Regions from separate parts of the Homo sapiens genome. Here region 2 is linked to region 1. The links come from fine-mapping of genetic effects on gene expression. A gene starts in region 1. The other region holds a variant in brackets. All regions are shown on one strand. Distances are between the middles of the regions.

Region 1 (5,378 bases):
TCCCGAGTTGCTGGGACTACAGGCATGCGCCACCACACCCAGCTAATTTTTGTATTTTTAGTGACAGGGTTTCACCATGTTGGCCAGGCTGGTCTCAAACTCCTGACCTGGAGTGAGCCACTATATCCGGCCTTTATAAACTTTTTTGATTCTTGTCATAACACTTAGCCTAAAATGCAAATGTACAGCTGTAGAAAAATACTTTATTTCTTTATATCCTTATTCTAGAAGCTTTTTTTCTATTAATTTTTGTTTGTTTGTTTTGTTTTACTATTTACTTCTAAAACTTTTTTGTTAAAAACCATGGCACAAACACACACATTATGCTAGGCATACAAAAGGTCAGGATCATCAGTCTCACTGTCTTCCACCCCCACTTCTCATCCCACCATTGTATCTGCTGTCTGTGGCTGACCAAAACATCATCATGTAGCACATGACTAGTGTGGCAAGTGCTCTGTTAGATGTAAGGCCATGATGCTAAAGCATCACAAGAGGGCATCTAACCCAGATTGGGGATGTCATGGAAGGCCGACATCCTGAGTTGAATCCTGCAAATGTAAAAACCAATAGGCAAAGAAGAGGAACAAAAAGGATTCCAGGACAAACTGAGGTCACATCTATGATCCTTGACTTTATTGTGTCTGTTTAAAGTATCTACAGTAACCTGTATCAACTTAGTCAGTGTATTAATACTAAATTTAGCTCCTTCAAAGCAGTTGGAACTATGTGCTACATAAATTTCAGCTTCACACAAGGAAGGGAAGGAGTGAAATTAGTGAACAGGCAGTTACAGCAAAAGAAAAAACATAAAAATTGAATAGCTGGCTCTGGTGAAATGAGCAAGGACTTTAGAGTCAAACTGGCCTGGATTTGAATCCTGATCCTCATTGCTTGTAGCTGTATGATCTGGACAAATGACAGTAACTGTTTCTAACCTTGATTTTCTCATCTGTAAGATGCCAATTGTAACTCCTAAGGATACTGAGGATTTTTTAAAATGCGTGTACAGTTCCTGACCAGTGGTTTGTGCCTAATAACTTATTACAAATTATTACCCAGTAAAAACCTTGAGACAAGAGTGAAAACGTAAAGCTAATTAATCCATTACTTGTTAGCAAGCAAACTACGTGCTTGAGAAAATTACTCAACTTTCATGTTTTACTTCCAGACAGTAGTTTGATTAAAAGAAAAAAAAAAATCACAGCCCAGGCATGTGGCTCACACCCTGGCACTTGGAGGCCGAGGTGGGAGCATAGCTTGAGCCTAGCAGTTTGAAACTAGCCTGGGCAACATAGATCCTATCTCTACAAAAAAAAAAAAAAAAAAAAAAAAAAAAATTGGCCCGGTGTGGTGGTGCATGCCTGTGGTCCCAGCTACTCAGGAGGCTGAGGCGAGAGGATCGCTTGAGCCAGGGAGGCTGAGGCTGCTGTGAGCCATGATCATGCCACTGCACTCCAGCCTGGACAACAGAGCAAGACCCTGTCTCAAAAAAAAAAAAAATCAGTAAAAAATATGCCGAAATAGCTTCAGAGTAATTATGAATTGCCTTCCAAAAACCACTGTTTTGCACTTGCCTGCAAGAATAGGAAAAACAAAAGGACTGTAAGGTGGCAGGATGGCAGAACCAAACAAGAGTAGTACACCTTGGAGTTTTTTCGAAATATGGGTTGGGTTTTTGGGCTCTTGGTTGATTTAAAATAAAATTTAAATGCCTTCAGCGTCTGTGATAGGTGCCAACATGAAGCTACCGAGTTCCAGAGAAAGAGGGGAGAGCTGATCACTCATCAGTGCTGCGAGACTATCAAAGGGCCCTTCAGGACCTATCTGTTCTTTGTGTGTAAAGAGTAACAATAAAAGAACACCAGTGTACCCACCGTATAGTTTAAAAATCAGGACTCAGCCTACTCTTTCCACTAACCGCGATCATGGTTTTCAAACGGAGGACCAACGGCGCTTTGCCACTGGGCCGCCAGCTGGGCCCTGCAGAGGGCCTACCAGACAATGAATCAGCTCCCTTGGAGAGGCGCCCGCGACCGCCCCACCAGCCCGAGAGCTAGAATTGAATCTGGGGGACCCCTGCGGCGCCGGGTCACGTGCCGTGGGCGCGCCACGCCTCCCCGAGGGCCGGGGGAGTCACGTGGGCGCGAGGCCCCGCCCCATCGCCCGGTCCGCGGCGAGGTGGGGCCTGGTGTTTGACCCGGAAGTGGCTGTGTTCAGCTGACAGCTGCTGATAAGGTGGCGGCGGCGAAGGCAGCGGCAGGTCGGGAGCAAGATGGCGCTGCGGCCAGGAGCTGGTTCTGGTGGCGGCGGGGCCGCGGGAGCTGGCGCGGGGTCCGCCGGGGGAGGCGGGTAGGTGTGAAGAGCCGGGCGGGAGCCCGCTGGCCTCCGCGGGGGCGGCGAGGGGCGCTTGGCAGTTATGGCAGTTTTCTCCAGCCCTGATCCTTTTCCTTGGAACTGGGCTGCGGGAGGAGGGTCATCCCCCAGGGACCCAGGCCGAAAGGGGCGTGTGGAGCCCAGGTGCTGGACGCTGGTGTTCCGGGATCAGTTGGGGGCGCCGGCCGCCTGGAATCGAGCGGGGAGCGAGCGCGCGCCCAGTGTGGGAGGGGAGAGAAGATGAGGGTCCTCTTGGGGTGGGGGGGGGCGGGGCAAATCAGGAACCGCGACTCCGCTCCTAGTCCTAGCTGCCTCTGAAGCGACCAGGGTCTTCCCTTTCCTTGGGCTTTCTAGACTTAACCGGATATGTTGGAGGGAGGGCTTTAAAAATCTGTTCACAAAGCTGGAGGACTGTTTCCAAGGGGGGTGTGTGTGTGGACTATTTGTCTCTTCCCCTTTTAGAGTGTCCTGTCCTCTTTATTTCCTTAACCCGCGACAAACAGCAGGAACATCTAAAGACCTCTGAATTAGTAATGGTCTTGAGATAGAGTTCTTGTCTTGTACACTAACTCTTAAGACTTGTCTGTCTTCTTTTTAAAAAGGCATTTAAAAACAAAGAAAGTGCACTGTTAAACAGCAGTTGCGCATTTATTAGAACAAAGCTTCCAGACTCAGCCCTTAAACAAATCTGCCCTCTGCCACATTTCAGCCAAGAACTGCCGTGGTTCTTATACCCAGAATGGTAAGGGAGATGTACGTTTTACAAGCTGACAGATTCGTTATCATTTAAGGAAATATTTTATTCTAGGAAGTTTTCACTCCACTTCTATAATGACCTAGTCTGATTTTGTTTTACTAACCAACACACAACAGCACACACATTTGGAGGTAAAAGTAGCTTTGCATCTTCAGTATCCTAAATTGTCTTTGGAAAACGAAGTGTTAGGTTTTTTTTTTATATGCAGTGTTTCAATTTCGGAGTCGTGAACACTACAAAAGTGTAAGGACCTTAAAGTTATCACCTCTTGCAGGTGCTTGTCAGGAAACGAGCAGTGGCTGTTCAATAAACCACCTGTGTGTAACCCCATTTTTCATTTCCTCTGCACATCTTTAACTTTAGATTTTTAAACTTTTTGCTTTCTCTTTTGTTCTCTCCGTTGTTTCATTAGAGGGTTTTTTAAAAAATAAATACTTCGTGTAAGCCAGTTTCTGGCTGGAGAAGAAACATATGTAATAATTCCCTTCTATTTGTTTTTTCTTTTTCTTTTGTCTTGTTTTTTTTTTTTTTTTTTTTTTTTTGAGAGGAAGTCTTGCTCTGTTGCCCAGGCCAGAGTGCGGCGGCGTGATCTCGACCCGCTGCAACCTCTGCCTCCTGGGTCCAAGCGATTCTCTTGCCTCAGCCTCGGAGCAGCTGGGATTACAGGTGCGCGCCACCATGCCCGGCTAATTTTGTTGATTGATCGATTGAGACAGAGTCTCGTTCTGTCACCCAGGCTAGAGTGCAGTGGCACGATGTCGGCTCACTGCAACCTCGACCTCCCGGGTTCAAGCGATTCTTCTGCCTCAGCCTCCCAAGTAGCTGGGATTACAGGCGTGCGCCACCACGCCCAGCTAATTTCTGTATTTTTAGTAGAGACGGGGTTTCACCATGTTAGCCAGGCTGGTCTCAAACTCCTGGCCTCAAGTGATCCGCCCACCTTGGCCTCCCAAAGTTCTAGAATTACAGGCTTGAGTCACCACGCCCGGCATCCTCTATTTATTTCCTATATGTGATTACAGTTTCTAAAATGTCCCTGGATGGTATTAATTTGATCAAGTATATGATTAATCATGGCACCAAGTTCTGGGAAAATGTAAACTTAGAAGAATTGATATCTAGGCCCAAATTTTTATTTACTTAAAAAATGTTTTTGGATGGGGAGGACCTCAGGTTCAGAAATTCAAGTGCATTATTCCCTTTAGTTTGCAGTATTTGAGTATCATTGGTCCATGGACACAAATTTTTAAAATAAATATGGGTTGAATTTTGATAGAAATTAGAATGATTTTAAAATTTCCCCCCTTTGTAAATGTAGCAACATCTGCATTCTAAAACTGTAAACGATATACAGGAGAGAAAGAAGTGGTTAAAATGATTCTTACCTTGAAAAATGTATGGTACATATGTTACATATATTGGCAACTTTCTGAGGCTGAGAAGCTGTATCCTCAATAGAAAAAGGAATATTATTTTTTTTAGAGAGTAATGGTGTAAAGGCTGAAGTTATTTTATTTCCTTTTTAATTTTCTTTTTGCCACCCACCCTCCCTGAAATTATTTTATAAGGAAACTTAACATTATGGCAACCTAAGTATATTTGAAGAAAAAAAACAGGCAACTTCTCTACACCTTTAATGGAGAAAATCCATGAACTATAACTGACTGTATTGTTTAGATACTTCTCTATATTCTAAGAGGCTAAGCAAAACACAATAACGTTTTCCAAATTTAATATTACCCTACTTTTGATTGGTGTCCTGGATGAGCTACTTTAGAATAAATGGTAGAGTTGTATAAAGGGCAAAATTTGCCCAAGAGATGAGAAGTATAAATTTTTTTTTTCTTTAATCAAGGCAGAAAAAAAAAAGAGTTGAAAGATCTGGATTAGTCTGTAGTCATTGAATGCTTACATGGGTAAGGTACTGTTCTTGATGCTGTAATGAATTAAAAAGACATCAAAACATGGTCCCCATCCTTGGAGAATGTACAAAATAACTGTGGTACAAAGTAAAGTGGAACAAAGAGGTCACGTTCTTCTGGGATGTTATCATCTGTGAACTTGTCTATTTTTTCCTGATCTTTTACAAGCTTTTAGAGGGCTTCCTCATCTTTTCTTCTTTCACTGCTTCTAGCACATTTTTGCACATAAAAAACATTCTGTAAATATTTGTGGATTTCAGCTATATCAAAGGCAAAGAAGTGGTATTTCATTTGGCCCACAGAGTTAGAGGAAGAGGAAGCGG
Region 2 (5,378 bases), 73 kb after region 1:
TTTAAGAAATAACAAAGTGATTTCATTAACTCTGACTAAATCAAAATAATATTTAAGCTAAAGAACCTGTCTTGGCTGGGTGCGGTGGCTCAACACCTATAATCCCAGCACTTTGGGAGGCCAAGGCGGGCGGATCACGAGGTCAGGAGTTTGAGACCAGCCTGACCAACATGGTGAAACCCTGTCTCTACTAAAAATGCAAAAATTAGCCAGGCGTGGTGGCACGTGCCTGTAATCTCAGCTACTCAGGAAACTGAGGCAGGAGAATCACTTGAACCCGGGAGTCAGGGGTTCAGTGAGCCGAGATCTTGCCACTGCACTCCAACCTGTGCTACAGAGCGAGACTCCGTCTCAAAACAAAGCAAAACAAAACAAAAGGAAAAAAACATATTTTCTCTTCCAGAGAAATGGAGGATTGTTTCTTCAAGGATAAAATGAGATTTTTTGACACCTCCTGGCTTTTCGGTTGGGTTTTCTACTAATAGTAAATTGATTTGCAATGACTTTTCTCAGTTATGTAAGGTGATGTGATTTCATTTCTTGTAGGTCATTAAGAAGGCAAATGATACCTTAAATGGAATCAGTAGTAGTTCTGTTTGCACAGAAGTAATTCAGTCAGCTCAAGGCATGGAATATTTATTAGGTATGTTCTTTCATATTTTACTATTGAAAATGATGGCCCTTTGCATTATTTTCAGTTTTCCCTTTAATTATTTTAAGCTAGATCTCTCAAGTTACATATGACTTCAGTAAGAAGCATCTGTATTTGTGGGTAAGACACTCAAGCTACAGGCAGTAAACTATTGGACTTAATTAAAAAGTCTCTATGGCTAAGTTTCCTCATCCTTGTTATATACGTAATAGCAAAAATGTAAAATTATATCTGTGTTACTGGTTTATCAAAGAATCTGAACTACCGATGCACTAAAGTAAAATCATCTTGTCTCCCATCAATTCCTTACCATACTCTATATTCTTTCTCTCGACCGCTTAATGACACCACAGAGTCCTTAACCTCCTGGCCATCTGCAGCAATTTGATGTGTCAGTCCAACGGGAAAGTGTAGTCTCTGTCCACTTCGGTGTTCCTCCCTTCCCCAAGCTCAGGCTTGGCCCGTGGCCAGAGCCACACATGCTGGACCCTAATCTTTTTCAAATCTTTACTCAAATGTCAGCTTCTGAGTGAAATCTTTCCTAGCATCCATCTCTCCAAAGAGTATCGTCTCTCCCTACCCCGGTACTTCCCATCCCATTCTCTGCTGGATTTTCTCCTTAGCCCTATTACCTTTAATTTCTTACATATGTTACTTATTATTCTTTTCTTTTCTTTTCTTTTTTAAGACAGGTTCACACTCTGTCACCCAGGTTGGAGTGTAGTGATGTAGTCATGACTCACTGCAGCGTCCACCTCCCAGGCGCAAGCAATCATCCCACCTCAGCCTCCCAAGTAGCTGGAACCACAGGTGTGCACCACCATGCACCCAGCTAATTTTTGTAGTTTTTGTAGAGACAGGTTTCCGCCATGTTGCCCAGGCTGGTCTCGAACTCCTGAGCTCAAGCGACCCACCCACCTTGGCCTCCCGAAGTGCTGGGATCACAGGCGTGAGCCACTGCACCTAGCTACTTGTTGTTTTTACTCTCTGTCTCCCTTCACTAGAATGAACCTCCAAGAAGGCAAGGATTTTGGTCTGTTTTGTTCACTGGTGTGTCCCCAACACCTAATCTAGTGTCTTGCACGTAGTTGGCACTCAAAAATATTTGCTGGATGAGTGGAGAGTGAAGGGATGTAGTCTCTGCCTTACTCCTGCCACCTCACTTGGGGTCTTCTTTTCCTGCTCAAACAGGCACAGTTCTGCATAAGCAGATGTCCACCAGGAAATGGGGCACCTGTCTTTTCTCCTAGTATCCTTGTATCTATGGAAGATTCTCTTAGAAGCCCCCTCACTTGGCTTAGGGTGGGCAGTAATTTCTGCCCCTCTCTTGGGAAAGGAAGAAGAAAAGCCGTAGTGCTGACACAGGGCTGCTGAGGCCCCGCTCTGAAGATCCCCTGGAATTCCTCCAGTGTTCACTTAGAGAGATCGGGGTCATGTCTTTGGTGACTGTTACATTGCAGGGGTTAGGGATGTGTCTGGTGGCTGTCCTTAGAATGTGGAGGTACTTAGCACCTCTCATCCTTGCTTCAAGAGTTCAACCACAATTTAGAGACCATAGGAAAAGAACTGTTCTGCATCCTGTTATGTGTTTAAAGATAAGTGAAGTCAAAGTGTTTGTAAGACCTTCAGATTCAGAGGGGTGAGATGTTTCTTCATTACTTTGTGATGCTATTAACATTTAGATTCTTTTAAATTTTTACTATCCCCATTTTCAGCTAGTTTATTGGGATTTCCCAGATTCAAACAGATGGACTCATAAATAAACCTCCCAAAAAACAAAAGCTAATAACTTGCATAGTGCCTGCCATTCTCCAAGCACTGTTGTAAGCCTTTTACCATATTACCCTATTTAATCCTCTCAACCATCCTTGGAGGAGCTACTGTTACCATCCCAACTTCACAGATGAGGAAACTGAGGTACAGAGAGATTATGTGACTTGCCTAAGGTCATGTAGCCAGTAAGAGGCATAGCTGGGGTTTGAACCCAAGCAGTGCAGCTTCTATGCTCTTACCAGTAAGCTATACAGCAGCATTGAGAAGTGGATTGGTCCCAAAGAATAGTAAGTACACCTCTGTCCAGATACACCCATTGTTTCTCACAGATATCAGCAAGCAATAATGCTCCCCTGTCTGGGTCCTCTGTGTCTCCACTGCCAACACTCTCTCTCTGCTCTCTCATCCCGTCAGGTGTTGTTGAAGTGTACAGGGTAACCAAGCGTGTGGAGCTGGGGATAAAAGCCACTGCAGTGTGCAGTGAGAAACTCCAGCAGTTGCTGAAGGACATCGATAAAGT[A/G]TGGAATAACCTAATCGGCTTCATGTCACTCGCCACACTCACAGTAAGCCCATGAGACAACTCAGCAGTTGCTTTCCTTTCCAGAAACCTAAGTTGTAAAGCAGAGTGTATATTCCTATGATGGTACTTATTAGAGGCTGGAGGTGCCAACTGGAGCATGTTATATTAAAGGAGGGAGATCACAGGTGTGTGGTCAGTTGAACAGTACCAGGTGGGCTTCTGATCTCTCTAAGGCCCAGTGAACCTAAGGAAAAAACCAGTACAGGAAAACATTCACTCTGGCTACACCTTTCTTAATTCACATAATACACGGAAGTTTTGCAAAGCAGTGGTTTGAGATACTCCCTTTGCACTTCTAGTTATTTATGTCCCCATACGTGTCCTTTCAAAAAGCTATATGATACCTCATGTTGCCATCCTGTAGTTTGTTTAGCCCTTCTTTTTTTAGGTTCTTGGGTCATTTTCATTTTTCCCTGTTACGAGTAGTTCTCTGAATAGACAAATCACTGTTCCTTTGTGGGGATGTATTTCCTCCAAGTGAACTAGGAGGTCAGTGTGTGTGTCTGCACAGGTGCATGCATGCGTATGTAGCTGTTGTTACATTTATTAGAAGGCTTTCCAAATAGCTTATATTGGTTGCAATGCTACCAGAAATATGTAAGTACATGGATACATTTCTCTACATTATGTCCTATCAATTTCTTAATTTAACAAGCATGCAATTATTCCCTAAGGTATTTTTTACATTTTTTTTTTTAATTTCATGAGAGGCTTTGCAGTGTTCCAAATGACAATTTACTATTTCTGTTTCCTTTGTGTATAAACGGATTGGACTCTTCTGACCATTTGACCATTTATTCCTTGGAATATGGTTATTGACCTTATATATTTCATATTTGTAATAGATTTATATACATATATATAAGCTTGTAAACGTTTATCAGCTATTTTCCTCCTCTATTACTGTCCCTTTTTTACATTTCATTGGGCAAAACTATTTTATTTTTATATATTCATACCTATTCAATTTGTCTCTGATGATATCCTTTATTTCACAATAGTCAGAAGTTTATCTTCCTTCCACAGCTGGAATAAATATGCTATTCCAATTTTTTTTTTAACATGGAACTCTGCGACCCATCTGAATGGGATTGCAGCTGTGTGGGAGGAAGCAGTTCTAATTTTCTGAACTGATAGCCAGGTGGATACCCAGCTACCCCAACTACATGTCTTCAGCAGCACATCCTCTCACCATTGTCATGTTGCTTCTGGTTTGTAATATTAAAGTCTTTAAGAGTTTAAGTAATTTCCAAAACTTTTTCTTGTTCCCTTGAATCACTTCTCATTTTCTAACCTAAAATTGTATGTAGATAATTAAAAAAAAAAATACTGTTCTGGCAAGTGAAATAAGAAATGGAGTATTAATATTTGAAAAAAGAGATAAAATTATGTTTACTTGGTGATAATGAAATTCTTTTAAAAATCTAAATTCAAGCAGCCAGGTGCAGTGGCTCACCCCTGTCATGCCAGCACTTTGGGGAGGCTGAGGTGGGCGGATCACCTGAGCCCAGGAGTTTGAGACCAGCCTGAGCAACATGTCAAAACTCCGTCTCTACCAAAAATACAAAAATTAACCAGTCTCATAACCCGGTCTATAGATAGATAGATAGATAAAAAAATATTTTTTAATCTAAATTCAGGAGTTTAAATGTATTGCATTTGGCAAAAATTCATAACAATCCTACATATTATTAGTAGTTAGAAAATATGATGAAATTAGGCTGGGCATGGTGGCTCATGCCTGAATCCCAGCACTTTGGGAGGCCAAGGCGGGCAGAACAATTGAGGCCAGGAGTTCGAGACCAGCCTGGCCAAAATGGTGAAACCCCATCTCTACTAAAAATACAAAAAAAAAAAAAATTAGCTGGCCATGGTAGCGGGTGCCTGTAATCCCCACTACTCAGGAGGCTGAGGCAGGAGAATTGCTTGAACCCGGGAAATGGAGGTTGTAGTAAGCTGAGATCGTGCCACTGCATTCCAGCCTAGGTGACAGAGCAAGACTCTGTCTCAAAAAAAAAAAAAAAAAAAAAAAAAAGAAAAGAAAATGAAGTTTAGAAACCTTATTTTTTTTGTTAGAAAATATAACGAAGGCCTTAGTGGCTGATGCCTGTAATCCCAGCACTTTGGGAGGCCGAGGTGGGTGGATCACCTGAGGTCGGGAGTTCGAAACCAGCCTGACCAACCCCGTCTGTACTAAAAATACAAAATTAGCTGGGTGTGGTGGTGCATGCCTGTAATCCCAGCTACTTGGGAGGCTGTGGCAGGAGAATTGCTTGAACCCAGGAGTCGGAGGTTGCAGTGAGCTGAGATCACACCACTGCCCTCCAGCCTGGGCAACAGGAGTGAATCTCTGTCTCAAAAAAAAAAAAAAAA

Direction of the effects. Alleles are on the strand shown, and positions count from the first base shown. SD is a standard deviation of normalised expression in the study named.
In carriers of allele G in region 2, the expression in fibroblasts of the gene that starts at base 2,213 in region 1 tends to be lower than with A alone (small effect, 0.33 SD a copy in GTEx).

Evidence for each region. PIP is the estimated chance that this variant, and not a neighbour inherited with it, causes the effect.
Region 2: its variant is fine-mapped to the expression of SYNRG in fibroblasts (GTEx, PIP 0.97).

The regions. Positions count from the first base shown.
Region 1 is chr17:37,606,253-37,611,630 of GRCh38, reverse strand. It overlaps SYNRG (synergin gamma), which reads left to right and starts at 2,213. Exons shown (of 22, transcript NM_007247.6): 1 at 2,213-2,352. The coding sequence starts at 2,276. It overlaps DDX52 (DExD-box helicase 52), which reads left to right. Exons shown (of 15, transcript NM_007010.5): 15 at 1-1,892.
Region 2 is chr17:37,533,589-37,538,966 of GRCh38, reverse strand. SYNRG (synergin gamma) reads left to right here. Exons shown (of 22, transcript NM_007247.6): 18 at 547-643; 19 at 2,840-2,988. Among named protein-coding and RNA genes, the nearest start is that of DUSP14, 46 kb to the right of the region's middle. The variant A/G (reference allele first, on the strand shown) is at 2,946.